Homo sapiens: one gene and its partners. The protein of the gene in region 3 purifies or fractionates together with the protein of the main gene of each other region. This does not show direct contact. Each region holds a gene or a part of one and is shown on either strand. Other genes may lie near its edges. The genes, in order: ADD2, BRAP, SERPINB13, BSDC1, RNF34, GLMP and C9orf78.

Region 1 (4,073 bases), on a different chromosome or scaffold from region 3:
ATGGATATGAAAGAAGACTTAAATAAATAAAAGACATATCTCATTTCTGAAAAGATTTACAATTCACTCATGTAAATATCTTTAAGTACCTACTATGTGCCAGATACATTCTAAATCAAAGGATATAGCAGTGGACCAAACTTACAAATTTCCCCTACAGAGCTTACATTCTAATATAAAATTATAAATTTATAAATTCTTCACCAAATCAATTTATTCGTTTAATGTAATCCCAATCAAAATCCCAAAAGGAATTTTTAAGGTCAATGGGGGGACTTGATAAAATAATTCTAAAGTTTGATTTTTGTTTTTGCTTTTTTGAGATGGAATCTTGCTCTGTCACTCAGACTGGAGTGCAGTGGTGCAATCTCAGCTCACTGCAACCTCCACCTCTAGGGTTCAAACAATTCTCCCACCTCAGCCTCCCAAGTAGCTGGGATTACAGGCATGCAACACCATGCCTGGCTAATTTTTATATTTTTAGTAGAGACAGGGTGTCACCATGTTGGCCGGGCTGGTCTCAAACTCCTGACCTCAGGTGATCCACCTGCTTTGGCCTCCCAAAGTGCTGGGATTACAGGCATGAACCATTGTGCCTGGCCTAAAGTTATTGTAAAGAATAAACTTGTACAAACAGTTGAGGAAAATTGACAAATGCATAATTAAGGGTATTTGTTCCATCAGATGATGAAACATGGGAAAGGTATTTCTAAGCATGCAATCAAAAGCAGAACACACAAAGGAAAATTACAATGGTTTCCGCTACACAGAAACTAAAGAATTCTACAAGACAAAAAAAATGCCATGGACAAAACTAAAAGACAAAGGAGAAACTGGAAAAAAAAAAAGCAATATATTTGACAGATAATAGAGAAACAGCTTTACTTTATAAAAATGTAAAAATCTATAAGAAAATAATACACTAATAGGAAAATAGGCAAAGGATGTAAAAAGGCAATTTACTATAAAAAGAAAGTCAGGGGCGGGCACGGTGGCTCACGTCTGTAATGCTAACACTTTGGGAGACCGGGGTGGGTGGATCACTTGAACCCAGAAGTGCCAAACCAGCCTGGGCAACATGGTGAAACCCTGTCTCCACAAAAAATACAAAAATTAGCCAGGCATGTGGTGCGTGCCCGTGGTCCCAGCTACTTGGCAGGCTGAAGTGGGAGGATTGCTTGAGCCTGGAAGGTTGCAGTGGGCTGAGATTGCACCACTACACTCTAGCCTGGGCAACAGAGTGAGATTCTGCGTGAAAGAAAGGAAAGAAAAGAAAAAGGAAAGGAAGAAGAAAAGAAAAGAAAGAAAAGAAAAAGGAAAGGAAAGGAAGAAGAAAAGAAAACGAAAGAAAGAGAAAGAGAGAAAGAGAAAGAGAGAGAGAAAGGAAGAAAATCATGTCCAATATGTATGTGAAAATACATTAATATATCCAACCTCATCAGTAGTCAAACAAATGCACATTAAAACACAAATAAAGTATTATTTGTCACCTACTGAATCAGGAGGATGAAACAAATGGTAGTATACACTATGGACCAGGGTAGAGGAAATGGGCACTCTACCGCATTACTGTTGGGAACGTAAATTGGATCCATTTGGAGAAAGGATGTAATCTGCCATTCTGCATTAAAGTCTTTAAAACATGCATGCATGTACTTCAATTCAGCAATTCTACTAGTAATTTATCTTAAGAAAATAATCACGGATATAATCTCAGGTTTATTTACAAGGATGTTTATTGCATTGTTCCTAACAGAAAAAGTTGGAAATAACCTAAAAGTCCAACAATGGGAAATTTATTAAATAGCATGTATCCACCAAAAATTATATTATAGAACCATATTTTATGTGATTACATTTGTGTTTGCATAATCTATATATGTTAAGAAAAAAAGGACTGGAAGGATATATGTTCACCAAAATATTAAGAATAGTAATATGAGGGCTTTAAGAACACAGTAGAATGATTTCTGCTTCCCTTTCTTGGTTATTTTCACAGTTTTCAGCCATAATCCTGTAATAATCTTATTGAGGGGGAGTTATTTTTTGATGCTTGTGTTTTAAACGTTATGGGCAGAGCATAACAGCCCAGGAGGGTGGCTTCCTGCATAGCCCTGGCTGGCTCCTCTCAGCCCTCATCTGTGGAGTCAGGTTGGCCTGTCTAGTGGGGCATGGAAACACAGGCTTCAGTGGTCTCTTCCCGTCCACTGAAGTCACCTCCACCCTCTTATTCCTGGCATTGGGGTAATTTTTCTGTGGACGTTTAATTTGCAGCAACATCAGAAGCAGAGCCAGGTACCTCTCTGGCTGCTGCTGAGCTCCCCAAGGCCTGATAACACAATGGGCTGCTTACTCCATAGCCTGGCAACCAGATGCTTCTTGCTGCTCCTCCCTCTCTTCCCCACCCCACCCTCCCCTCCACCTCTGCTCCTGGCAGCTCCCCAGACACCACATACTCATGGAAGATGTCGGGAAGACTGCGTGGGAGGTGCTGGCCATGAAGTCCGCGATCTGTCGCAGGGCCCAGATGTTGGAGGAGTTGTTCCCCTTCTTCATCTGCTCCTGGATGAGGCCTTCCAGCTCCTCCCTGAAAGACTGAAGCAGGCCCCGAGGTGCTTGTCCCCCCACAGCCTCTCACACAGCTGCCCAACAATGAGCTCTTCCAAGTGCCCACCCCTTGCCCCTGGGTCAGCTAGGTCAGGGCCATGCTCAGGGTCCCCAGCTACAGGGGACACTGAGCAGTTCCACTAGGACCTCAGGAATTGCTGTATGGGAAGCAACAAAGAAATGCTGGGAATGGATCTTGTGTTCCCTTGCCCTGTGGGCAGTAATCCAGATTCCAGGTCCTTTCTGTGTCTAAATGAGGGCCAAGACCCCTCCCCACCATCAGACATGGTAGGACTTCACTTTAGTAATGAAGGACATTTTTTTAGGCAGAACTGAATGGAGAGAGCCACCATCCCTCTCCATTAGCGATGCCTGTGATTCTTTCGGGCTTCAGTTTCCTCATGTGCTTAATGAAAGGGTAGGAGGAAGAACAGGAAGATTTGATGACCTCTGAGGTCACTTCCACTCCTGATGTCCAACTCTAAGCCTGGCTTTTCAGACCATGAAGCCATAAGCAAGGAATCCTGCCCACCAGGTGGCAGGAGAAAACACTCAGGAGGAAATGGGGGGCCACTTAGGTGTGTTGGCCAACCTGTAAAAGGGAAGAAGGAAGCAGGCCCTCCTCCAACCCCTATTTACTGCCTGAGCCCTGAAATCTGGGCTGGTGCTAACTCTGCCGCCTCTCCTAACCCCCTTGCCACCCCTCCTAGTCACACTCTGGGGGTTTTCCCAGAGGCTCTTCACCCCAATGCTTTCAGCATCTGCCATATTCCTCCCAGCTCCCCAACACAATATCTGGGCACAGATATTGGACCTCGGCCCATTCCCTGGAGCTGCTCTGTGTGGCCTGAGTATGCACCATGGCTCCCAGCCAGGGTCTCACACAGCCCCTGCACAGGCCCTGGCTCTCTGGAGCCCAGAAGGCCAAGGCAGAGCGGCTCCCATCTCGAGCCCATCCTGGCAAGCAATTGGAGATGCCAACTCTGTCCCTGGGCTTCCCGATCCTTAGGATCATGGGCTGATTCCTGAGGCCCCCCAAGCTCTTCCTCAGTCAGACCCCTCTTGCCTCCACCACAGTGATCTCCCTCTGCCTTCAGTGGTCCACAGGGCCCACCCTTCGGCCTTCTCAAGGCACTACCTGCCTCAAGGAGGAGCTGTGTCCATGCCAGGCAGGAACCAACTGGCCCCAAGTAAGGAGGGATGTGAGTGATCCCGACTTGCCTTCCCTTCCCACACCCCATCCCACAGCCCGGCTGAGCCCTCCACTCTGCCCACCTCCTGGGGCTTCCAGGCTCTCCTCAGCCCCATCCCATTCATGTCAAAGCTTCATTTGTCCCGACAGAAAGTTCTTACTTTGTGGTGTTCAGTAAAGGGAGCCCCAAGCCCTCCTCCTGGCACCCTGCTGGTCTCTAGTTTACATGGATTTGTCCGTTCACTGTCATAGCTTTTGGTGAGGAGGGAAGACT
Region 2 (4,073 bases), on a different chromosome or scaffold from region 3:
CCTCTACTTCTCCAAGGAGGTGTCTGCTAAGGCTGTGGTAACTAAGCACGCAGGTGAAAAAAGCCAACATACTCTATTAAGTGGTCATCTGTCCTTTTCTGCCCCCAAGAACAACAAAATTGAACTTCCTTCTGCTTTTCCTATGTCCTGAAGAACTGTAAATTCTCTACCCAAAGACCAAGTTTCCTAAGGGTCACACTACAAATTGGTAAGCACACCCCCCCTTTTTTTTTGATCTTTTAAAAAAAATTTTTAAGAAACAGGATCTTGCCATGTTGCCCAGGCTGGTCTTGAACCCCTGGCCTTAAGCAATACTCCTGTCTTGGCCTCCCAAGGTGTTGGGATTACAGACATGAGCCACCACACCTGGCCTCACAACTCTTTCAGCTAAAGCTAAGGCCAACAGAAATTCAAAAATTACCAAAGATAAAGAGAAGGCTTATAAGTCCTTATTTAAAAATCTGTGGTGAGGAAAAGAATAAAAACATAGTTAGGTGCCCAGGCTATGGAGTCAGGCTGCCTAGGTTTGAACCCTAACTCTGACACCTACTAGCTGTTTGGCTGCAGGCAAGTGACTTATCTGTGCCTGTTTCCTCAACTGTAAAATACATGGCATTTTTTTTTTTGAGACAGAGTCTCGCTCTGTTGCCCAGGCTGGAGTACAGTGGTGTGATCTTGACTCACTGCAACCTCCACATCCCAGGTTCAATAGTTTCTCCTGCCTCAGCCTTTCAAGTGGCTGAGATTACAGGCGTGCGCCACCACATCCAGCTAAGTTTTATATTTTTAGTAGACATAAGCTTTTACCATGTTGGCCAGGCTGGTCTCAAACCACTGCCCTCAAGTGTTCCGCCCACCTTGGTCTCTCCCAAAGTGCTGGGATTAAAGGCATGAGGCACTGCACCTGGCCAACATGGCATCGTTGAGAGGATTCAAGGAGACAATGCATGGAAAGCACTTGGCACAGGGTCCGGTCTCTAGTAAGTGCTTCAGAGTTGGTAGCTACTGAGCCTATTATTCTCACTACAGCCGATATTAGTTTAACTTCCAGTCTTACACCAAGAGGGTATTATTAGGTATTAGAAAATCCCTGTTAGGATGATAGGGATTAGCCCCTAAGACCCAGAGTTAGCAATAAATAATACAACTCATGATACCAAGATAAAGGGTTCTAGCCCCATGGGGAAGAGCATGCAGCAACCTGTTTCGCAGTCTCAGAAAAACATGTCAACTTGAGCAACCTTCACTTGATCAAAAGACACAAGGGGAAGGATAGTGCAGATGTACAAGGAAAATTCATTCACAGTAAATATCCACAGTACTACCTGCACATTATGAAGGGCAGTACTTGTTATAGGGAACTGTGTGGGTTTATTAAACAGGTGACTGTGGTGGATTTATACGACTTCAGACTATTTCAAAAGCCTGAGTGCTCTTCAACATTTTTTTCCCAATCTATTTCTGGGTCTTTTCCTTTGTTACTTGCTTATTGCCCTAGTTGTTAAGTAGAAACTGTAACAATACTGCTGTCATAGAATGTCTCACAAACAACCGCCTCCCTTCCCCACACCTTCATCCCACTCCTACTAGAAGAGGAACGCGTCCCTGGAATTAAAAGTGAGGGTGCCACACTCTTGCTTGTCATTTATGTCTAGCTATGTAACCTTGGGCAAACCATGTATCTCCCTCTGCAGTCACCCTCCTCATCTGTAAAACAAAGATAACAACACAGTTTCCGCAAGGGATTGTAGTGAGGATTAAATGAGACAAAGTGTATTGAACACTTAGCACAGTGAGTGATACAGAAGCCATCGATAAACGTTGGATATTATCATCATTATCCTTATTATTACATGTGCTACCAGACTGAAATGGCTTAAGGCACGATTTTCCCATGGTTTGCAAAGCTCCTTGGCACCCTTGGAAGGCTTTCTGATGGACAGTGAAAGGAGCTATTCAAGTGCTTTTCTGTTCTTAATGTCAACTTGTAAACTTTAAATCCAAAGGATAATTGAAACCTTTTAAATGTCTCCCTAAATGATGGGGTACTTTGTAAACAGAAAACATAATAACTGTGTACTCTCTTGCAGACAGAACTCCACACTAAAGCTTCTCTCTGGAGATCACAGAACAGGTACACTCTTCCCCCACTAAAAAGAGAATGAGGCCGGGTGCAGTCGCTCACGCCTGTAATCCCAGCACTTTGGGAGGCTGGGGCGGGCAGATCACCTGAGGTCCAGAGTTTGAGACCAGCCTGACCAACATGGAGAAACTCCGCCTCTACTGAAAATACAAAATTAGCCAGGCATGGTGGTGCATGCCTATAATCCCAGCTACTCCGGAGGCTGAGGCAGAATGGCTTGAACCCAGGAGGTGGAGGTTGCTGTGAGCTGAGATCGTGCCATTGCACTCCAGCCTGGGCAACAAGAGTGAAACTCCGTCTCAAAAAAAAAAAAAAAAAAAATGAAAGAAGTGGGGGTAATGGAAAAATAATAAGATGGTGTTAACTTCAAAAAGTCTGGGAACCACCGCTTTTCTGGAATAGTTACCGCTTGTTTAAAAAAACAAACAGGCCGGGCATGATGGCTCACGCCTGTAATCCTAGCACTTTGGGAGACTGAGGCGGGTGGATCACAAGGTCAGGAGTTCGAGACCAGCCTGGCCAACATAGTGAAACTCTGTCTGCACTAAAAATACAAAAATTAGCCAGGCATGGTGGTGCATGCCTGTAGTCCCAGCTACTCAGGAGGTTGAGGCAGGAAAATCGCTTGAACCCGGGAGGCGGAGGTTGCAGTGAGCCGATACCACACCACTGCACTCCAGCCTGGGCGACAGAGCGAGAATTCGTCTCAAAAAGAAACAAACAAAAAAACACACTAGATTTTTTTTTTTTTTTTTTTTGAGACGGAGTCTCACTCTTGCCACCCAGGCTGGAGTGCAGTGGTGTGATGTCAGCTTTCTGCAACCTCTGCCTCCTTGCAAAACCCTAAACTTCATACTCAATCTGATCTATAAAAAATCATGGGCATGAGGCCAGGTGCAGTGGCTCAGAGCATCTGTAATCCTAGCACTTTGGGAGGCCAAGGCAGGAGGATTGCTTGAGGCCAAGAGTAGCCTGGAAAACACAGCAAGATCTCATCTCTACCGAAAAAAAAAAAAGTGTATACGTTATAATTGTATTTCTGCTAATGAATTTAGAAATACATCTAGAATTACAATTATATCTTAGAAGACATCTCAAGAATCTTAAGTGCAAAATGTTGTAAATCACACACAGCTATCATACAGTTTGAATACCACAGTTTCTGTGGCAAAGAGATTTTTAATAAATTTAATAACTTTTACCTGTGCACGAAACTTTATCAGCACCATATATTGGTTGGGAGTAGAGTCTCTGATAATTTTCATTTGTTCAATTACTTCGTTAAATGGGGCAACAAACTTCATAAGGTCATGACTGGTCATTGCAGCAGGGACTGTGAGAATACACAGCATGGCACTGCGCCGCACATCTTCTTTTAAGGAGGTCATCTTACTAACAAAAAAAAAATTAGAGTGTCTTGAATAGATGAGGTATGGTTAGTTTAAACAATACTAGACAACTTTTATGTCCAAGAAAACAGGAAAAAATAAAAATTGTAATATTTCATTAATGAACTGTTCTATATTATACCCCCCATTGGACTTTTTAATCTTCAGTTCAACATTTATTACGGTTATAAATCTGCATTCGGTAAATTTGCAGTGTTTTACTCTCATCAATGTTTGAATAATAATCTGTCACTGGTGGCCAGGCACAGTAGCTCATGCTCGTAATCCCAGCACTTTGGCAGGCCGAGGCGGGTGGATCACGAGGTCAGGAGATCGAGACCATCCTGGCTAACACGGTGAAACCCCATCTCTACTAAAAATACAAAAAAAATTAGCCGGGCATGGTGGCAGGTGCTTGTAGTCCCAGCTACTTGGGAGGCTGAGGCAGGAGAATGGTGTGAACCTGGGAGGCAGAGCTTGCAGTGAGCCAATATCGCGCCATTGCACTCCAGCCTGGGCCACAGAGCAAGACTCCATCTCAA
Region 3 (4,073 bases):
TTTTACTTGCGTATTATAACATGTCAAAATACCAGAATTAGAGAGACCCCCCAAAATTACTAGTTCGTACTCTTTACTGGAGAGACTTTCTCTCCTTTCGTGTGCACAAAACTACAAGATACCAATTTACTTTCAAAGGAAACCAAAGGGAGATTATCAATGAGGTTTGGTTTGACTCACCTTACGCATGGCACAAAGAAAAGGACATTTCACTTTCGAGGATGGTTATAAACACACACATTATTGGAGTCATTAAATCATTGATTTGATGGCCAAGACTGGAAATGCAAGTGAGACAACATTTAAAAGAATGGACGATTTTCATAATCATATGAGTAACACTGGTAGTTGTTTTTTGCTAAAAGCAGCAATGCCATGGCAACGATCATCTTAAGGAGAAGAAAATCTGCCGAAGAAGAGGATGCTGTTGGATTCATTGTGCCTGATGAAGAACAGGAAGGGATGATTGCAGTGAACATTTTCATGACCTGGGGCGGATGTGACAGTAAAGCCTATGCCGGTGGCAGCTGCAGCCTCGGTGCCTTCCTCAGTTACTGCCACAAAGGAACTGTGCAGGAACTTCTGGGCGTACAACCCGGAGCCTGACGACATTCCCGAGTAGTCGGCTTTGTGCTCACTGAAGGCATCGCCCATCCCCATGGCAGCCAGGACCGCCTCTAGATCGTAACCGTCCTCCACCTCAAACCGGGGCAAGTGCAGATTCACCTTTCTTTCTTCCATATGCCCTGGACTAGTCCACTCTACCAATTTCTCAGGACTTATTTTATCTATTATCTATTTTCAAAAAAAGAAGAGTAGAATGGCATGATTATCAATAAAAATCTAAAACAGTGTAACACTGATTTGTGTCAGTCAGAAGTTATTAATTTTAGTAATATTAAAAGTAGAAATTTTATTTCACTAGATTGTTGTCTTTATACTGCAGGCGGTTGTCTTATATCTCTCTGTTTAAATTATCTGTGTATATGTGGAAATCCAATAGCATTGAATACATTTTTAAAGATTAAAAATAAGTCATTTCTTATTTTATCAACCTAGTATATATTTCATTTTAACTATCTCTCCTAGTCTTTGAATGCATATATATTTACATAGTTGCAATCACAGTGAATGTCCATTTTATTTGATAAAAAGTAAACTTTTTCACAATATTGCATATCTCTCCTATCTTCAAACAGCTAGATAATATTCTTATGAAGTTGATAAATTTTTCCCAATATTTAGCTATTCATTCACTTTACAAACATTTAGTCTTTATCAGGCATTGTGATAGATTTGATAGTTACTAAGGATACAAAATAATAATTACGATGAATTTCAAACTGGGCATTCCAGTGTATTTAATACCGAAATAACTGATTTTACTCAGAAAGGCAACTTTTTTCTTCTGCATTATTTCTTTAGAGTAATTCCCACAACTGGGGTTTTTGAATCAGAAATACTCTTAAAGCTCTCAGACATATTGCTATTTTGCTGTCTCAAAATATTTTCCAACTTAAAATGCTACTAGCAATATTTCACAGAAGTAGCACAGCATCTGGTAGTATAAGACGATAGCAGTTATCATTTGAGTGCTTTCTATGTCCTAGACCCCTTCTAGGCTACGTTTCTCTAATCATTCCAACACTGCTGCACGTTAACCACCATGGAGCCCTCTTCAGAGATGGGAAAGTATTGAAGTTCAAGGAAGTTAAGAAGCTTCAAGGGTCAGAAAGCCACTAGAGGAACAGGGATTTGAAACAAAACTCTCCTCATTTTCAAAATACAGGACACTAGCCACAATTTATTTATTTATTTATTTATTTATTTATTTATTTATTTATTTATTTAATTTTGAGACAGAGTCTCGTTCTGTCACCCAGGCGGAGTGCAGTGGCGCTATCTCGGCTCACTGCAAGCTCCACCTCCCAGGTTCACGCCATTCTCCTGTCTCAGCCTCCCGAGTAGCTGGGACTACAGGCGCCCACAACCACGCCAGGCTAATTTTTTGTATTTTTAGTAGAGACGGGGTTTCACCGTGTTAGCCAGGATGGTCTCGATCTCCTGACCTCGTGATCCGCCCGCCTCAGCCTCCTAAAGTGCTGGGATTACAGGCGTGAGCCACCACGCCCGGCCTTCACATAATTTTTTTAACCACAGAATGGATGAGACTAAATCAATGGTGTAAGAGTGTAAGAAAGAAATTCAAAAGCTCCAAAAGCCTATTGAACAGTGTGCAGAACTGGTTGTATATATGCATATGTGATTTCTTTTTTCCAGGAAAGGGGTCCATAGATACCAACCATTTCTCAGAATGGTGGGTGATCGTTAGGACTCCCATATAATCTTAAATGTTCATTTTAGTTCATCCCAAACATTCTAGGATTAGTTGTTCTCAATAAACCTGACCCATACTATTTAATGCTCCCCAGTAGACATCCATCTGTAGCTGCTGGAGAGTGAGAAACACTTTCTATTTGACACTGCTGGCCACCAGCTCCTACTCAGAAGCCCTGAGACAAAAAGCCTTAGGAAATGAAAGAAAGAATAAGGAGGTGTAAGCGTTTACCTTCTCCAGGCCATCGATGTCGTTGGGCAGAAGCACAAACATGCTTAGGTCGTTGTTTTTATATGGAATCCCTAGAATTTTGGCCTGCAAGTCCTCCAGGAAAGTGAAGCTAAAGGAATGGCTCTGTGTCATCATCTGTACAGATTTACTTGTGCTCTGCAACAAATTAACAGAGCACACAATATCAAAGGACATAAGACCAAAGGCATTAAGGCAACCAAGTTAGTTCATCAAAATAATTAGCTCAATCTAAAATAAAACCCAATATCAGAGTCTCAGAATGAGCATCCACTATCTACCAGTATGCATTTGCTCAAATATGACTTTAGATTTTTTTGGGGGGGTGGGGGATGGAGTCTCACTCTGTCACCAGGCTGGAGTGCAGTGGCATGATCTTGGCTCACTGCAACCTCTGCCTCCCGGGTTCAAGCAATTGTCCTGCCTCAGCCTCCCAAGTAGCTGGGACTACCGGCGTGCACCACCACACCCAGCTAATTTTTATGTTTTTAGTAGATACGGGGTTTCACCATGTTGGCAAGGATAGTCTCGATCCCTTGATCTCATGATCCACCCACCTTGGCCTCCCAAAGTGCTGGGATTACAGGTGTCAGCCACCACGCCCAGCCATGACTTTAGACTTTACATTCCATGTGTAAGCACATCACGAAAATAAACTAAGGGCCATACCTTATTCATCCAAAATTTCTCTTCCTTAGTATTTTCTTTCTTAAACTCCCTGTCCCATTGCCCTTTAAAATAAACCATGTTCACCAGCACCAGCTTGGTAGAGCTACTAATAGAGCCATCTGGGAACAAGTCCTTGATTTTTTCTGCAAATGAAGAAACAGAAAAAGGTTGACCCATCTTCCAAATGACAAATAATATGTATGACAAATATGATGCAGATGGACTTGACTGATCATTAAAAACCCAGCCAGGTCAGCACCTGAGGGCCTTGCTGACAAAGGGTTTGCTGGCAGAATCGACGGGGAGGTTCTCATTTTGCCCATCGCCTATTTATCCCAGTGGATAAATTAAGGTTCATGGTTAAGAGTCCAGACTCTGGGGTCAGATGCCTCTGTTAGCATCCAGTTTGCCTCTTATCAGCTGAGGAATCTTGGGCAAGTTATTTAAACTCTCTGTGCCTCAGTTTCCACATCTGTAAAATAGGAATAAAATCTGCCTCATAGGGTTGTTGAAAGGAACAAATGATTTAACACATGTAAAGCTATTAGAATACCATCTCACACATAATAAGCACTCTGTGTTAGCTATTATGCTTACCATTCAATATAGTTACCACCTGAGATTAAGGGATTACTTATTATATTGGAGAAGGAGTTGATATTTTTGTCTCTGAGTTCACCCCATCCCACAATAAATTCTAAAAAATACTGTTCAACTTTTTGAAAGATCCTATTTTTTCTGTTTCTTTTATTTCCTTTCTTCAGACCAAGCATGAGGGGAAAAAAAAAACACATTCTGAATAACAAAGTTCTCTCTG
Region 4 (4,073 bases), on a different chromosome or scaffold from region 3:
GAGATCGCGCCATTGCACTCCATCCTGGGAGACAGGGTGAGACTCCATCTCAAAAACAAACAAACAAACAAACAAACAAACAAAACCCAACTCCAGCATCACTTGCTTGGTTCCCAGGCCAGGAAGGGTGCCATTCCTCTGGCTCCTGCTGCCCCGCTGCTCTGCAGAAGCAGTCATGCTGCTCTCTAGTATTTCTACTTTATTGACTGTTTCTGCTTTCCCCCTCTTAACTGCCAGTTCCTGGAGGGTTGGACTAGGTGGAGGGTTTGGCTCATTTCTGATCTCCAGTTCCCATAATGGGGTTTGCTGCATGGCAGGGGCTTAGCTAACAGGAGCTGAAGAGAAGGCAAGGGGGGCAGCAGGGCTGGGAGGGAGGCTGAGCTGAGGATGAGGGATGAGAGGGGCCAAGTCCCTGCAGGGTGGGCAGGACAGCTCAAGTTCAGGAAAGAAAAGAGAACATCCACCCACCCCACAAAGTATAAGGTACACACTAGTCTCACTCTGGTCTCCCTACATAGGGGGTGCCCGGCCTCTGCTACCTGAGACAAACAGGGTCTACAACCCAGCCCCCTTAGTCTACTTGCCCTACAAGCCCACCCGCTCAGTGCTACCCTCTCACCATCTGGTTCATTACAGTAGGTTGCTGGGTCCGACTGCAGGCTATAGAGGCGAGCCTGTAAGAAAAGGAGAAGAGGAAAACAGAAATTCTGAGATACTGGGCATAGAAAGCACCCTTTCTCTGCCAGGATACTCAGTCAACCACAATCCAGCTTCTCCCTTGTTGGCTGGGATACCCCCAGGGCATCTGTTAATTAGCACTGTGGCACAGAGAGTGGGGCACTAGGCTAGGCATCCAAAACTGGGGTTCCCAGAAAAATGGCCTTTCACCCAGTATTCTACCCCAAGAACTAAGAAAATACAGCATAAGCAGGCTACAAAATTATTTGTATAAAATGCTTTGTAGTAAGTAAAATTTGAAAAATGTTAGTGCCAATATGTTAATAAAGTCAAAATTTAGGGACAAATTTTAAAATAACACAATTTCCCTCAAATTAAAACCACTCAAGAATTTATTAATTGTATAGCCAGTCTCTACCAAGTTACGTTCCCACTAGGATCACAGGGTGGCAAACTTAGCTGGCAAAGACAAAGTCCACCTTTCTTCCTCAGTATTGCAGGAAGCATGGGCTATGTGTAAGCGGTCTGGTGATAATTCACTGTCGTTATAGCTCAAAATCTTATCAAACATTTTCACAATTCCACTCACATGTTCACTAAGTGGTGGCGCTAATGCTAGTGCTAAAACACATACTTGAAAAATCAGTACTTTTGGAACAAAAGTTCAATGTGGGCCGGGTGCGGTGGCTCACGCCTGTAATCCCAGCACTCTGGGAGGCCAAGGTAGGTGGATCTCTGGAGGTCTGGAGTTCAAAACCAGCCTGGCCAACATGGTGAAACCCCATCTCTACTAAAAATACAAAAATTAGCCGGGCATGGTGATGTGCGCCTGTAATCCCAGATACTCAGGATGCTGAGGCAGGAGAATCGCTTGAACCCAGGAGGTGGAGGTTGCAGTGAGCCGAGATTGCTCCACTGCACTCCAGTCTGGGCGACAGAGAGAGACTCCATCTCAAAAAAAAAAAAAAAAACAGAAGTCAATGTGATAAAATGCTACAAAGCCAGCCTAGGCAACATGGGGAAACCCTATTTCTACAAGCATAAAAATTAGCTGAGCGTGGTGATGTGTGCCTATAGTCCCAGCTGCTCAGGAGGCTGAGGTGGGAGGAGCACCTTAGGAGATCGAGGCTGCCATGAGCTGTGATCGCACCACTGCACTCCAGCCTGGGGGACAGAGGGAGACCCTATTTCAAAAAAAAAACAAAAAACAAAAAACAAACAAAAAAACTACGAAGAGGGCCCAACTGCCATGACATTATATTGTGAATTTAGAAGAAAACACTCCATGAAATAGAAAATACAATGTGGCCAGGCGCGGTGGCTTACGCCTGTAATCTCAGTACTTTAGGGGGCTGAGGTAGGAGGATCACTTGAGCCCAGGGGTTTGAGACCAGCCTAGGCAGAATAGGGAGACCTCATCGCTACAAAAAAAAAAAAAAAAGGCCAGGTGTGGTGGTGCACGCCTGTGGTCCCCGCTACTAGGGATACTAGGGAGGTTGAGGTGGGAGGAACACTTGAGACCAGGAAGTTGAAGCTGCAGTGAGCTGGGATCATGCCACCGCACTCCAGCCTGGGTGACAGAGTGAGACCGTCTCAAAAAAAAAAAAAAAAAAAAAAGAAGAAGAAAAGAAAATGCAGCAAAAATACGCTACTGTGGCTGTTGCTTTAAGTGCTCTGAAGACACCTCTCTCCCCTTACCTATACGTGTATTACTAGAAATTAGTCTAAATAACCCAAATGTGGAGATTATGCCTCTAAAAATGCTCTCCACAGCGTTCCTTATTATGCTTGAAAGCTGAAAGGAATCCAAATATGCAACATGAAGGAAATAATGGAATAAATAATGCTATATTCACTTGTAAGAATTTAAAGACATTAAAAATTATGGCTGGCTGGGCACAGTGGCTCACTCCTGTAATCCTAGCACTTTGGGAGACCAAGCTGGGAGTCACTTGAGCCTAGGCATTTGAGACCAGCCTGGGCAACACAGTGAGACCCCGTTTCTACCAAAATAATTTTTTTAAATTAGTTGGGTGTGGTGGTTCACGCCAGTGGTCCCAGCTACTCAGGAGACTGAGGTGGAAGGACCCTTGAGCCTGGAAAGTCGGGGCTGCAATGAGCCATGATTGTGCCACTGAGCCCCAGAGAGAGCTTGGGTGACAGAGTGAGACCCTGTCTCATTAAAAAAAAAAAAAAAGATGATTAGGAAAGATGCTATGTTTGTTGATTTTTTAAAAGTAGGTTACAAAACTGCATGTATAAAATGTCTTTTTTGTTCAGAAGAAAAAACCAAACTATCTTTACCTATGTTTATAAACAAAAACAAATGTAAGGTTATATACCAATAAGAAATCAGGGGTTCTCTTTGGGTGATGCAATTGTGAGTTTAAAAATAATTATCCTGTCCTTGCTTACTGGTATTTTCTGATTTACTATTAATAATATACCCATATTTATTTTTTGGCCTGAACATGGGCTGCTTTTGTGAGTACAGGATGGAAGTTAAAGCCCAGGTTACAGATGTTAGGCATCTGCAGGGGAGACTGTCAGTGAATACCTTGGTGCCATCATAGGGCTCAGCTGTGCCAGACGGTGTGCCCATCAGGGTGATGACATCGCAGTCGATGGTTTTGTCTGGCGAAGGGGCAAAGGTGTCTGAGATCACCCCTAGGAAGTCAGATAACCCTTTCTTCATCTTCTCTGTTGCTCCTGAGGAGCCTTCCGTCTGTATAGAGAACGGGCAGAGGAAGCAAGCGCCCCGGGAACAGGCTGCAATCTGGGGTATGGGGGTAAAACATTGGGGCAAAGGTGTACCGTGTGTTGGGGGACCAGGGAAGCGCTCACGACCCTTCACCCGTCTCTGGGGCTGCAGGAGAGGGAGGAGGCAAGGGTCCTCCATCCCCCAAGTGGGGCTGCAGAACAGGGCCATGGTAGGCCTGTGTAGATCAGAGATCTTTGATTGGCTGTTTCATCAAAATTTCAAGGTCAGTCAGGCCGGTCAAAACTTGGCCAGAGAAGGTCCATGCCATAGACACATCAACAGGGAAGAGAGCCTATGGGTAGAGTGGTGGAAAGGGTACTAGCTTCGGAGTTAGACAAAGCTGGTTTGAATCCTTGCTCTACCACTTGTTGGTCATGAGACCGAAACCCTTTCTGAACCTCAGTTTCCTTATTATAAAATGGGGTTAAGTATACATCCTTCATAGGGTTACCATGAAGATTAAAAGATAGGGTATGGACAATGCCTGGCACACAGCATACGCTTAATAAACTGCAGCATTGTAATACTGCAATTTCATCATCATCATTGCTCAGGAAGTAGAATACTTTGTACAAAAGGTTGGAAACATATGGGCAGGATTAGAACAGATAGCCTTGCCTTGCCTGGGACCAAC
Region 5 (4,073 bases), on a different chromosome or scaffold from region 3:
CAACTGTCTGCCTATGCCTAGCACAAAACTCCAAGCTCAGAGAATTCACCTGTGTTTGGAGTTTATTTTCTAGTCATCAGTGATTACTAAAAATAAATGACTTGTTCTTGATAGTCTAATCCCTTTCCTACCCACTCTCTTAAGCCAAAGCTGCTCTCAGTAGAGCCACCATAGGACCATGGTCTGCCTGGCTTATATCAGTTAAAAACCAGGTATCGTATTTAAAAACTTAACACCAGCCCGGCGCGGTGGCTCACGCCTGTAATCCTAGCACTTTGGGAGGCTGAAGTGGGCGGATTGCTTGAGCTCAGGAGTTCGAGACCAGCGTGGGCAACGTGGTGAAACGCCATCTCTACTGAAATACAAAAAATTAGTCAGGCGTGGTGGCAAGTGCCTGTAGTCCCAGCCACTGGGGAGGTTGAGGCACAAGAATCACTTGAAATGGGAGGCGGAGGCTGCAGTGAGCTGAGATCACGCCACTGCACTCCAGCCTGGGCGACACAGCAAGAGTCTGTCTCAAACAACAACAACAACAACAACTTACACATTCCATAATAAGAAATCAAATTCTAAAACCTGCCTGGACTGCCTCAGACACCTAGATATCCTCATGTCATTCTGGTATCCAATGCCAGTTCTCCTCTTTTCTTCAAAGACAGTGCACCAAGATTTTAGGGAGCCAGTAACAGTACCTTTTTTCCACATCCAATTTGGAGCTAATTAAGAAATAAGACAGGCCGGGCACGGTGGCTCATGTAATCCCAGCACTTTGGGAGGCCGAGGCAGGCAGATCACAAGGTCAGGAGATCGAGACCATCCTGGCTAACATGGTGAAACCCCGTCTCTACTAAAAATACAAAAAATTAGCTGGACGTGGTAGCAGGCACTTGTAGTCCCAGCTACTCAGGAGGCTGAGGCAGGAGAATGGCGTGAACCTGGGAGGCAGAGCTTGCAGTGAGCCGAGATTGCACCACTGCACTCCAGCCTGGGCAACAGAGCAAGACTCCGTCTCAAGAAAAAAAAAAAAGAAATAAGACAGAGGCCGGACACGGTGGCTCACGCCTGTGATCCCAGCACTTTGGGAGGCCGAGGCAGGAGGATCATCTGAGGTCAGGAGTTCCAGACCAGCCTGGTCAACATGGTGAAACCCCGTCTCTACTAAAAATACAAAAATTAGCCAGGTATGGTGGTGGATGCCTGTAATCCTAGCTACTCAGAAGGGTGAGGCAGGAGAACTGCTTGAACCTGGGAGACGGAGGTTGCGGTAAGCAGAGATTGCACCACTGCACTCCAGCCTAGGTGACAGAGCAAGACCCTGTCTCAAAAAGAAAAAAAAAGCAAGAAGACAAATGGAAATTAAAATGTTTGTTTTTACTGATAGCATCAACTGGAGAACAGAACCTTAGCTCTGTAGCCAAGTCTGGATAATATACAGCTGACCAAGAGCAGCTTACCAGCTAGTTGAGTGGAGACCAGAACTCCATCTTCACTACAGGAAGACAAATGTGAGAAGGTCCCAGAAAGTACTGAGCCAAGCATGTCAGTTCCTTCACTGAAACTCCTCAATATTCAAGTCCCTCTTTTTCCTCCCATAGCAGAGACTGACAGTGTTTCTCCCATACTGTTCCCTCCCCAAAAATGAATTAGAAGCCCCCTCCCCTCTGTAGGAGCAAAGGAGAGGAAGCAAATGGGAGGGGAAAGAATACAAACCTAAATAATCTGCGTAAGAGTAGGAATGACAGTTTCCAGCCAATAAGGTTATAAGGACTCTCTCAGGTTCCTCAGTCAGAGTCAAACAATATAAGCCCATGAAACATCATTACAGTCAACAAAAGCAAGAGGAAAGGTGTTCTGTTTCTTTGCAAGAGCAGCAGCCCAGCTCTCTTTCTGGCACAGTGCCAGGATTTTCAAATGGCCTCAAGGTTCAGCTGTCTTTGCTTCTGTGTGTGTATAATCTAATATGTTTTCAGAATCCCTGTGGGGAGAAAATACTTCAAAATGCTCAATTTAAAGAATTCACAAATTTACCACAAATTTTCAACCCTAAACTTTTAATGATTCCATTAAATATATTATCAACCAGCCAGACTAGAACGAAGAATCAGAAAAGCTATGGTAGTTTCCATGAAGATTAAATGACAGGCTGGGCGCAGTAGCTCACACCTCTAATCCCAGCACTTTAGGAGGCCAGAATCACTTGAGGTCAGGAGTTCAAGACCAGCCTAGCCAAGATGGTGAAACCCGGTCTCTACTAAAAATACCAAAAAAAATTAGCTGGGTGTGGTGGTGCACAACTGTAGTCCCAGCTACACAGGAGGCTGAGGCAGGAGAATCACTTGAGGCGGAGACTGCAGTAAGCTGAGATGGTGCCACCGCACTCCAGCCTGGGCAACAAAGAGAGACTCCATCTCAAAAAAAAAAAAAAAAAAAAAAAAAGATTAAATGACAGCCAGACACAAGAGAAGTATAGGGGGAGAGTGGGAAAAGAAAGTTTATGAGTATGAAAACAGACAACTAGGCCAGGTGCCATGGCTCAAGCCTGTAATCCTAGCAGTTTGGGAGGCCAAGGCAAGTGGACTGCCTGAGCTCAGGAGTTTGGGACCAGCCTGGGCAACATTGTGAAACTCCGTCTCTACTAAATACGAAGAAAAAAAAAAAAAATTAGCCGGGCATGGCAGCTACTTGGGAAGCTGAGGCAGGAGAACTGTTTGAACCCGAGAGGCAGAGGTTGCAGTGAGCTGAGATCGTGCCACTGCACTCCAGCCTGGCGACAGAGTGAGATTCCATCTCAAAAAAAAAAAAAAGAAACAGAAAACTAAATGATCTAAGTCATTCACTTTTTATTAAACTAGGTAAATAGCAAGGTAATAATAATGCCATAGACTCTTCTCGTAAGAGTCTATCTTGCTTGCCAAAACTCTAATATGTTACTACACAGTCATTCACTTTTTATTAAACTAGGTAAATAGCAATGTAATAATAAACCCATAGACTCTTCTCATAAGCGTCTACCTTGCTTGCCATAACTCTAAGTTAAATATATTATTTACACAGTTATTTTAAGGATGAACCTAGAAGTTTTAAATTCAAAAATAATTGTCTCAGATGCTACATGAATCTACAAGGACCAAGGAGCGATACTGTTCTTCCATCAATGAAAGCTTCCTCAGAGAACTCACCCACTATATGTCCAGGGTTTGTTTCAAACTCTGGACAACCTTCAGTTTGCTAAAACTCAATGTCCTGTGTTAAACGACAGGAAAAAGATGTATTAAATCTTAGCAACGGTGATATAAAATAATCGGTTTTACAGTTTAATCTTGGTTAGGTTAAACTTTCCTACATAACTAAAAGCAAAGCAGAAAAAACAGTTGATAAAAAAGCAAAATCTTTATCCTTTTTTTTTTTTGTTTTGGTTTTTTTTTTTGGAGACAGAGTCTTGCTCTGTTGCCCAGGCTGGAGTGCAGTGGCGCAATCTTGGCTCACTGCAAACTCTGCCTCCCGGGTTCACGCCATTCTCCTGCCTCAGCCTCCAGAGTAGCTGGGACTACAGGCGCCCGCCACCACATCCAGCTAATTTTTTGTATTTTTAGTAGAGACAGGGTTTCACTGTGTTAGCCAGGATGGTCTCAACCTCCTGACCTTGTGATCTGCCTGCCTCGGCCTCCCAAAGTGCTGGGACTACAGGCGTGAGCCACCGCGCCCGGCCTCTTTATCCTATTTAGAGCCATTTGAGAAACATATGCTCCTTAGAATGTGAAAGGATTTCTTATCAAAACTGCTGCTTCAACTGAAATACAATATGCAGGGACCTAACTCTTTCTTAGTGACCAAATATCCGACCATATACCACAAAGGAAGGAATTCTACATCCTAAATTATTTCTCTCATACCATTTGGACATTAAGCAGGTTGCAAAAACAGATGATGAACTCTAAAATGTAATACTTTTAGACAAGACATTGGCCAAACTGATCGATTATTACAATAACATGTGCTATAGATACAAATGTTACCTTCCTCATGCTTGGGTTTTTGTTTTCTTTTAACAGTATACTTGATCCTTAGTACCA
Region 6 (4,059 bases), on a different chromosome or scaffold from region 3:
CCCCACCTGGGGGTCTCCAGGAAGTCGAGGCTGGCCTCTGAGGTTCCACAGAAAAGCAAGATGGGGGAGTGAAGGGGCCGGCTGGAACTTGATGCTCCAACCTCCAGAGTTTCGAGGCACAGCAAGACAGGTTCAGTAATGTCCTTCCCTCCAGAGAGCGGGCCTTAATTTATGGACTGGTACTCTGAGTACTTCTTGTGGTGCAGCAGCAGAACCAAGCCGCCCCCTAGCAGCATGAGCCCTGGGGCACCCAGGGCCACTGCCATGATGCCCAGGACTAGTGGGGACAAGCCGTCCACTGGAGGGAAGCCCACACCCAGGAGCATCGACCTAGAGCAAGCAGAGAGAGAGAGGTAAGCGGGCTTAGGAGGAAAGGCTGGGAGGCTCAGCCTTTGTCCACTTCAACTCCCCAAGTCCCCGGCCCAAACCCTGGCTCTCACCAGCTGAGGTAGTGTTGGTCCCAATAGCCAGGGCCTGTGGAAGCCCCGAACGTCAGATTGAAGGCACAGAAGTTATTCTGGGACCCAAAGAAGGCTCGGACAATGGGTGACTGGGGAAGAGAGTATGCTAAGGCAGGATGAAGAGGGGAAGCTTGGCAGGGCAGGGCTGATTCTCGGCCCCCCGGCTTCTGGGAGTAAGCCACTGGTCGCCACTGTGCAAAGCCTGATGGGAGGGAGCCCCACAGTAGCTGGTCCAACTGGGAAGAAAGGCAAACAAGGGAGGGTAAAGAGGACCAACCTGTGCCCGACCCTCTTTTCCTTGCCACTCCCAGCCTTATTCTGTGACTAGCAGCAGGAGTCCTGAGTCCTAGGCAGGGCCTCAATCCCTCCTCTGTAAAAATGGGGAGTTCGACTGGGTGAGGACTGAGTTGTTTTCCAAACCTCCAAGTCTGGACTCAGCCCTCCTCTTGGCCCCTAGCCCCCTTGCAGATCTCCATCTGCCAGAGTGTAAGTCATATTGCACTTTCTGTCTGTCTCCACTGAGGGCAGAGACTGGGTCAGATTCATTAGCACAGTGCCTAGCTCTTAAACGACCCAAAGAAAGTGTTGCTAAATGGCAAATGGTTGAATGAGTTTTAGGTCCCAATGGTGTCCCACCTACATTCCTCACCCATCTGCCTCTCTCCAGGAAGCCTGACCTGGAAGACGGCCGGTGCATATTCATCGTCGATGGAGTGCTGCTCCTGCATTGAGGGGCAGTCAGGGCCCTGGCCCAATGTGGCTACCTCCAGCCCAAACAGGGAACGGTTTCCCCGGGGAGAGGCTCCAATCAGGGCCACCTCTAGCTGACAGGTGTCTGCTGTGTGCAGGAGGCGAGGGGGTTGGGCTGGTCGGCTGGACCTGGAAAAGGCCTGGACCTAGGAAGGAAGAAGCATGGGAGGTGTGGGAAATAGCTGGATGCCTGTGCTTAAGGGCCACCTCCATCATTAAATCCCACCCTCACAAATCAGCCTTTTTGAGCTCTTTCCGATTTCTCACGCCTTACCCTGAAGGCCAGGCTGCCATTGGCAAAAGTCCTGGTAGGGTCGTTCATGGGGTGGCCTTGAAATGTGGCACTCAGGGTGGCAGGATCCAATGAATCAGTGATGTTGTTCCAAGAGAAATCGGCCAAGGAGTATGGAGGATATGGTCTTCCCAAAGGCTTTGCTGCCGTATCGGACACGTTGGTGCTGTCAAACTCAAGCAGCTGGAGGGTGGGGGTAGGGTGGAACTGGGCTTGCCTCAGTTTTTCTCCCGAGACCACACCTCCCACTCACCCCCTACCAAGGCTTTCATATCTGAGTCTATTTCACCCACCCCCAGTCTTTAGTTCCACCCTCTAATTGGGATGAACTCTCTCCTCTGCACTCTTCTCCTTGGTTCTCTCCCAACCTCCTCACCCTGGTAAAAACAAGGGCAGAAGAAAACTGAATGCTGTCCTTAGGGAGCACCATCAGGCCCCCATCGGGCTCAGGGGATAGCAGGAGGCTCCAGTTGACGCTCAGGGTGCTGTGGGGGGTGTTGGTGGCCACCATTACCACTGCCAGAGGCCCCAGGCTGCTCCACACATAGTGCAGTGTGGAATTGGTGCCCACTGCCCGTATATGAAGCAGGTTCTGCAGGGGGCCCAGCCAGTTAGGGATGACCTCCAGAGACACCTGGAACATGGAGTAGTGGAGGGTTGAGGGAACAGGACCAAGGAGAGACACAGGCAAAAGAGAAGCTTGAGGGGAGGGGGGCTTGGAAAGTGCTGGACAAAGGATGGGATTTTGGGGACTAGACAAGAGGAATGTGTGCGGGAGCTGAGGGAACCCTGGGGTAAGGGGCAGTGGGGACAGGATGAAAAGGGGTAGGGTAGAGGGTACAGCCAGGACTCCCCTGACCCTGGTGGGCGGGTCAGGGCACAGGGCTGCGAAGAAGAAAACATTCAACACTTGCCTGGACCTGGGTCACCCAGGGCTGAGTCGGGGTCCAGACATCACCCTCACATTTGCCCTACTCCACAATCCCGTCCCATGACCCATGACCATCTCCCACACCCTCCAGGTTGAAGAACCCTCCTCTTGGCAGCCACCCTCCACCCCTAGCCCCTGGATGCCCGGTTCCAGCCACCCTGCAAGGGTAGCGTTTCCTGAAACTTCTATCGCTGTAGCCCCAGGGCCCTCACCTGGCGGGTCTTCTCCCCCAGCAGGCCAAATGGGGCTGCAAACAGAAGTAGAGTCCAAAGGAGCAGGGGGCTGGGGGCACAGTGCCCCCAACCCCAGGTGCACTCCACAGAGCCGCGCATACGGCCGCAATTCAGCCGACGGAAGAGGTGCCAGAGGGTCACATGACTCGCGTTCAGCTGATCCCTTTCAAGGGCGGAGCCGCCAAACTATTTGCTTTTTAAAAAAATTTCCTTTCGTCAGCACCATTTAATGTATTAAAGAACAGCTTTGTATTCTATCTTAAAACAGGAAACGTCAGTCTCTTACAAGTAATACAATTTAATATGGTCACAAGATTTTAAGTGAAAAAAAAAACATTCATGCTACAAGTTTTCAGTTTTCCTTGGACAATGCCAAAAACACAGTATTCAAACGGCATGTTTTAAGAGGAACGTGAAATCTCATTTTGACACAAAGACAGGTTAAAGAAAATAAACCCAACAGGGAACTACTCCAGTACATTGCCTTAAGTTCCCAACCCTGTCCCATTGTGGAACTCATACACCTTCTTTCTACTCCAGCACATGAAACTCTGTGGTTCTTCTTCCCTGTGGAACAATGTGGTTCTTCTTCCCTGCCTAACATTTCAACAAAAATTGTAAATATTTAGAGATGTGTCACTAAATGACAACAACATACTTCCAAAAAAGCCAACTTATTTGTTAAATGTTGAAAGAAAAGGCCGGGCACGGTGGCTCACACCTGTAATCCCAGCACTTTGGGAGGCTGAGGCAGGTGGATCACAAGGTCAGGAGTTCAAGACCAGCCTGGCCAAGATGGTGAAAGCCCGTCTCTACTAAAAATACAAAAAATTCACTGGGCACGGTGGCAGGGCCCTGTAATCCCGGTGGCAGGCGCCTGTAACCCCAGCTACTCGGGAGGCTGAGGCAGGAGAATCACTTGAATCCGGGTAGTAGAGGTTGCAGTGAGCCAAGATTGTGCCACTGCACTCCAGCCTGGGCGACAAGAGCGAGACTCCGTCTCAAAAAAAAAAAAAAAAAAAAAAAAAAAAAAATATATATATATATATATATATATATATAGAGAGAGAGAGAGAGAGAGAGAGAGAGAGAGAGAAAGAAGGGGCTAGGCCGGGCACAGTGGCTTACGCCTGTAATCCCAACACTCTGAGAGGCCTTGGTGAGTGGATCACTTAAGGTCAGGAGTTAGAGACCAGCCTGACCAACATGGTGAAACCCCGTCTCTACTAAAAATACAAAAATTAGCCAGGTATGGTGGCAGGCGCCTGTAATCCTAGCTATTTGGGAGGCTGAGGCAGGAGAATCGCTTGAACCTAAGAGGCAGAGGTTGCAGTGAGCCGAGATTGCGACATTGCACTCCAGCCTGAGCAACAAGGGGCAAAACTCTATCTC
Region 7 (3,316 bases), on a different chromosome or scaffold from region 3:
TGAGATTGCGCCACTGCACTTCAGCCTGGGTGACAGAGTGAGACTCCGTCTCAATAAATTAATAAATCAAACATTCAAATAATTCAAAAATTAAAAAAATAAAAGTTTACTGTGTACTTTTGTGACAACTATATAGCATTTACATTGTATTTGGTATTATAAGTAATCTAGAGATGATTTAAAGCAGATGGTAGTGTGTGTGTAGGTTAGATGCAGATATTATACTATTTTATGTAAGGGACTTCACTATCTGCAGATTTTGGTATCCTTGAGGGACACTAGAACCAATCCCCCATGGATACCTAAGGATAAGTGTATCCACTCAATCCTTGGAGGTATCACTAGCAGCCAACAGTTTGCTTGCATATATTTCTAGAGTTTCTTTTCTTTACATATACTACGGCATTTTTTTTTTTTTGCCAACTGTAAATAGGATATTATAAATGCTTATGTCTTTGTTTTCTTCTTAGAACATAAAACTCAGCCTCATTGAGTTGTGACTTGAAAGCTCTGCCTCATTGTTCTCTCCCTCCAGGATCAGTGAGGAGGAGGACCTGCACCTGGGGACATCGTTTTCTGCAGAAACCAACCGAAGGGATGAGGATGCAGACATGTAAGTGTCAGTCTGTTTGGCTGTGAGCAGTTGGGGCTGGACTCCAGTCAGAGTCCAAGATATTTAGTCAACAGATGACATTTCTAGAATTTTCTAGAAGATGTCAAAGTTGGCCCCTCTCTTTCTACTTCCCAGCTTAAGAACTTTGAAAACCTCTTAAAAGGTCTTTTCAGGCCGGGCACGGTAGCTCTCACCTGTAGTCCCAGCACTTTGGGAGGCCGAGGCAGGTGGATCATCTGAGGTGGGGAGTTCGAGACCAGACTGACCAACATGGAGAAACCCCGTCCCTACTGAAAATACAAAATTAGCTGGGTGTGGTAGTGGGCACCTGTAATCCCAGCTACTCGGGAGGCTGAGGCAGGAGAATTGCTTGAACCTGGGAGGCAGAGCTTGCGGCGAGCCAAGATCTCGCCATTGCACTCCAGCCTGGGCAACAAGAGTGAAACTCCGTCTCCAAAATATAAAAAATAAAAACTTGTTTTCAAAGGTGGTTTCATGACTAGTAATATTTCCCCAAAACATTGCAGGGATAAAACATGGGCTTGCCCACTTTTTATTTTGCCAACAAAGCTATTGGCAAACTATCATCTTTCTGTCTTCAAAGAACCTTGTACATCATAACACCAATAGATTAGTGGGACATAACCTCATAGGTTGGTGCTTCTTTAGAAAATTTCTAACTTGATGAAAAAACTCAAGTTATTTTTTTTCTCGTTTCTCCATGGACTGTCACTGGTCTGCGGGCCAGTGTTGGGGACCACTGATTTAGAGGACACCTGGTGTGTGTTTCCCACCCCTCCCTGAGGCCTCTGGGTTTCTCACTTCAGGATGAAGTACATTGAGACAGAGCTAAAGAAGAGGAAAGGGATCGTGGAACATGAGGAACAGAAAGTTAAGCCAAAGAATGCAGAGGACTGTCTTTATGAACTTCCAGAAAACATCCGTGTTTCCTCAGCAAAGAAGACCGAGGAGATGCTTTCCAACCAGATGCTGAGTGGCATTCCTGAGGTGGACCTGGGCATCGAGTATGTTTGAGACCCCTAGGCAGAAGACACAGTGCTTTCCAGTTAAAAGTTATGGGGGACAGGCCAGGCACGGTGGCTCATGCCTGTAATCCTAGCACTTTGGGAGGCTGAGGCGGGTGGATCACGAGGTCAGGAGTTCAAGACCAGCCCGGCCAAGATGGTCGAACCCCGTCTCTACTAAAAATACAAAAATTAGCTGGGCATGGTGGCAGGCACCTGTAGTCCAGCTACTTGGGAGGCTGAGGCAGGAAATTGCTTGAACCCTGAAGGTGGAGGTTGCAGTGAGGCGAGATCATGCCACTGCACTCCAGTCTGGCGACAGAGCAAGACTCCATCTCAAAAAAAAAGGAAAAAAAAATTTATGGGGGACAGGTATGGTGGCTGATGCCTATAAGCCTATAATCCCAGTACTTGGGAGGCCAAGGCAGGAGGATCACGTGAGGCCAGGAGATCAGCCTGAGAAATATAGTCAGACTCCTGTCTCTCAAAAAAATTTAAAAAATTAGCTGGGCTGTCACTTGAGCTCAGGAGTTGAGGCTACAGTGAGCCATGATTGCACCACTGCACACCAGTCTGGGTGACAGAGTAAGACCCTTTAAAAAAAAAAAAAAAAGGCCAGACATGGTGACTTGTGCCTGTTATCCTAGCTCTTTGGGAGGCCAAGGTGGGAGGATCACTTGAGCCCAGGAGTTCAAGACCAGCCTGGGCAATGTAATGAGACCCCATGTTCTTATCTGTGTCCTTAGAATCCTACAAATACAAATGAGATTGTCCCTGGCAGGTTGTTGCTAGAAGTTTCGCTGAAGGCTTGATCAGAGTAGTAAGGGCCCCTGACTGCTGGAAGCAAAAGTGGTTCTTTAGCGTGTTACAGCTGTTCAGCTGTATCAGGCCCTTTATTCTTCTGTTTTCTTCTAGCAGGAGCCATGTTAAAGGCTCACTCACCCCTTCTCCCCATGATCCTTCTTAAAATATCCACTTTAAAAGGGAATTGTTATGGAAGAGGTACAATTGTTAGAATAATCTTCTGGTACAGTAGAAAGCTGGGAGGCTTCTGGGCTCTTTTCTGGCCTTTACAAACTTTGAGCCTTAAGCATTTTACTTCTCTGAAGCTCAATTTGCTCTTGATCAGAAGAGCAGAGTAACTGTGGTTCTCCGACAGCCGTGAGAGTCCCGTGAGAATGTGACTACAAGTGTGCTTGATAAAGTGGAGAGCTGTGCCCCAGGACACATGATTTTCTTATGTACTGCTGGGCTGCCAGCCTCACCACTCATGTCTGAGTAGTAAGGTGCTATCATCTTCTAAGTGGTGTGGTTTCTTTCTCTCCATAGTGCTAAAATAAAAAATATCATTTCCACGGAGGATGCCAAGGCCCGTCTGCTGGCAGAGCAGCAGAACAAGAAGAAAGACAGCGAGACCTCCTTCGTGCCTACCAACATGGCTGTGAATTATGTGCAGCACAACAGATGTAAGCCCCTCGGAGAGCAGTCTTGCCCCCATTCCCCTATTTGGGCTGAGATCCCTAGGAACCTCATGTTCTAACGTGTCCCCTGGTCTCTTTGGGTCCAGTTTATCATGAGGAGCTCAACGCGCCCATACGGAGAAACAAAGAAGAGCCCAAGGCCCGGCCCTTGAGAGTAGGTGACACGGAGAAGCCAGAGCCTGAGCGTGAGTGCAACA

What was found.
Region 1: the proteins of SERPINB13 (region 3) and ADD2 purify together in Homo sapiens (affinity purification with mass spectrometry; 2 studies listed by BioGRID and IntAct, with this or other methods). This does not show direct contact.
Region 2: the proteins of SERPINB13 (region 3) and BRAP purify together in Homo sapiens (affinity purification with mass spectrometry; 2 studies listed by BioGRID and IntAct, with this or other methods). This does not show direct contact.
Region 4: the proteins of SERPINB13 (region 3) and BSDC1 purify together in Homo sapiens (affinity purification with mass spectrometry; 2 studies listed by BioGRID and IntAct, with this or other methods). This does not show direct contact.
Region 5: the proteins of SERPINB13 (region 3) and RNF34 purify together in Homo sapiens (affinity purification with mass spectrometry; 2 studies listed by BioGRID and IntAct, with this or other methods). This does not show direct contact.
Region 6: the proteins of SERPINB13 (region 3) and GLMP purify together in Homo sapiens (affinity purification with mass spectrometry; one large-scale study listed by BioGRID and IntAct). This does not show direct contact.
Region 7: the proteins of SERPINB13 (region 3) and C9orf78 purify together in Homo sapiens (affinity purification with mass spectrometry; one large-scale study listed by BioGRID and IntAct). This does not show direct contact.

Annotation. Positions count from the first base shown.
Region 1 is NC_000002.12:70,701,865-70,705,937, forward strand, and holds part of ADD2 (beta-adducin), read right to left. Parts: intron 2,596-4,073; coding exon 2,457-2,595; intron 1-2,456. UniProt on the Homo sapiens protein: Membrane-cytoskeleton-associated protein that promotes the assembly of the spectrin-actin network. Binds to the erythrocyte membrane receptor SLC2A1/GLUT1 and may therefore provide a link between the spectrin cytoskeleton to the plasma membrane.
Region 2 is NC_000012.12:111,675,806-111,679,878, forward strand, and holds part of BRAP (BRCA1-associated protein), read right to left. Parts: intron 3,536-4,073; coding exon 3,346-3,535; intron 1-3,345. UniProt on the Homo sapiens protein: Negatively regulates MAP kinase activation by limiting the formation of Raf/MEK complexes probably by inactivation of the KSR1 scaffold protein.
Region 3 is NC_000018.10:63,593,681-63,597,753, reverse strand, and holds part of SERPINB13 (serpin B13), read right to left. Parts: intron 3,729-4,073; exon of another isoform or gene 3,580-3,728; coding exon of another isoform or gene 3,516-3,579; intron 3,400-3,515; coding exon 3,257-3,399; intron 2,726-3,256; coding exon 2,570-2,725; intron 796-2,569; coding exon 391-795; 3' UTR 1-390. UniProt on the Homo sapiens protein: May play a role in the proliferation or differentiation of keratinocytes.
Region 4 is NC_000001.11:32,380,595-32,384,667, forward strand, and holds part of BSDC1 (BSD domain-containing protein 1), read right to left. Parts: intron 3,455-4,073; coding exon of another isoform or gene 3,404-3,454; coding exon 3,236-3,403; intron 675-3,235; coding exon 620-674; intron 1-619.
Region 5 is NC_000012.12:121,402,751-121,406,823, reverse strand, and holds part of RNF34 (E3 ubiquitin-protein ligase RNF34), read right to left. Parts: exon of another isoform or gene 4,026-4,073; coding exon of another isoform or gene 4,017-4,025; intron 1,976-4,016; exon of another isoform or gene 1,711-1,975; intron 1-1,710. UniProt on the Homo sapiens protein: E3 ubiquitin-protein ligase that regulates several biological processes through the ubiquitin-mediated proteasomal degradation of various target proteins.
Region 6 is NC_000001.11:156,292,880-156,296,938, forward strand, and holds the start of GLMP (glycosylated lysosomal membrane protein isoform 1 precursor), read right to left. Parts: upstream 2,801-4,059; 5' UTR 2,767-2,800; coding exon 2,647-2,766; exon of another isoform or gene 2,418-2,646; intron 2,138-2,417; coding exon 1,880-2,137; exon of another isoform or gene 1,797-1,879; intron 1,687-1,796; coding exon 1,486-1,686; intron 1,358-1,485; coding exon 1,139-1,357; intron 832-1,138; exon of another isoform or gene 739-831; intron 698-738; coding exon 441-697; intron 331-440; coding exon 165-330; coding exon of another isoform or gene 133-164; 3' UTR 1-132. UniProt on the Homo sapiens protein: Required to protect lysosomal transporter MFSD1 from lysosomal proteolysis and for MFSD1 lysosomal localization.
Region 7 is NC_000009.12:129,829,193-129,832,508, reverse strand, and holds part of C9orf78 (splicing factor C9orf78), read left to right. Parts: intron 1-535; coding exon 536-613; intron 614-1,440; coding exon 1,441-1,638; intron 1,639-2,967; coding exon 2,968-3,104; intron 3,105-3,205; coding exon 3,206-3,304; intron 3,305-3,316. UniProt on the Homo sapiens protein: Plays a role in pre-mRNA splicing by promoting usage of the upstream 3'-splice site at alternative NAGNAG splice sites; these are sites featuring alternative acceptor motifs separated by only a few nucleotides. May also modulate exon inclusion events.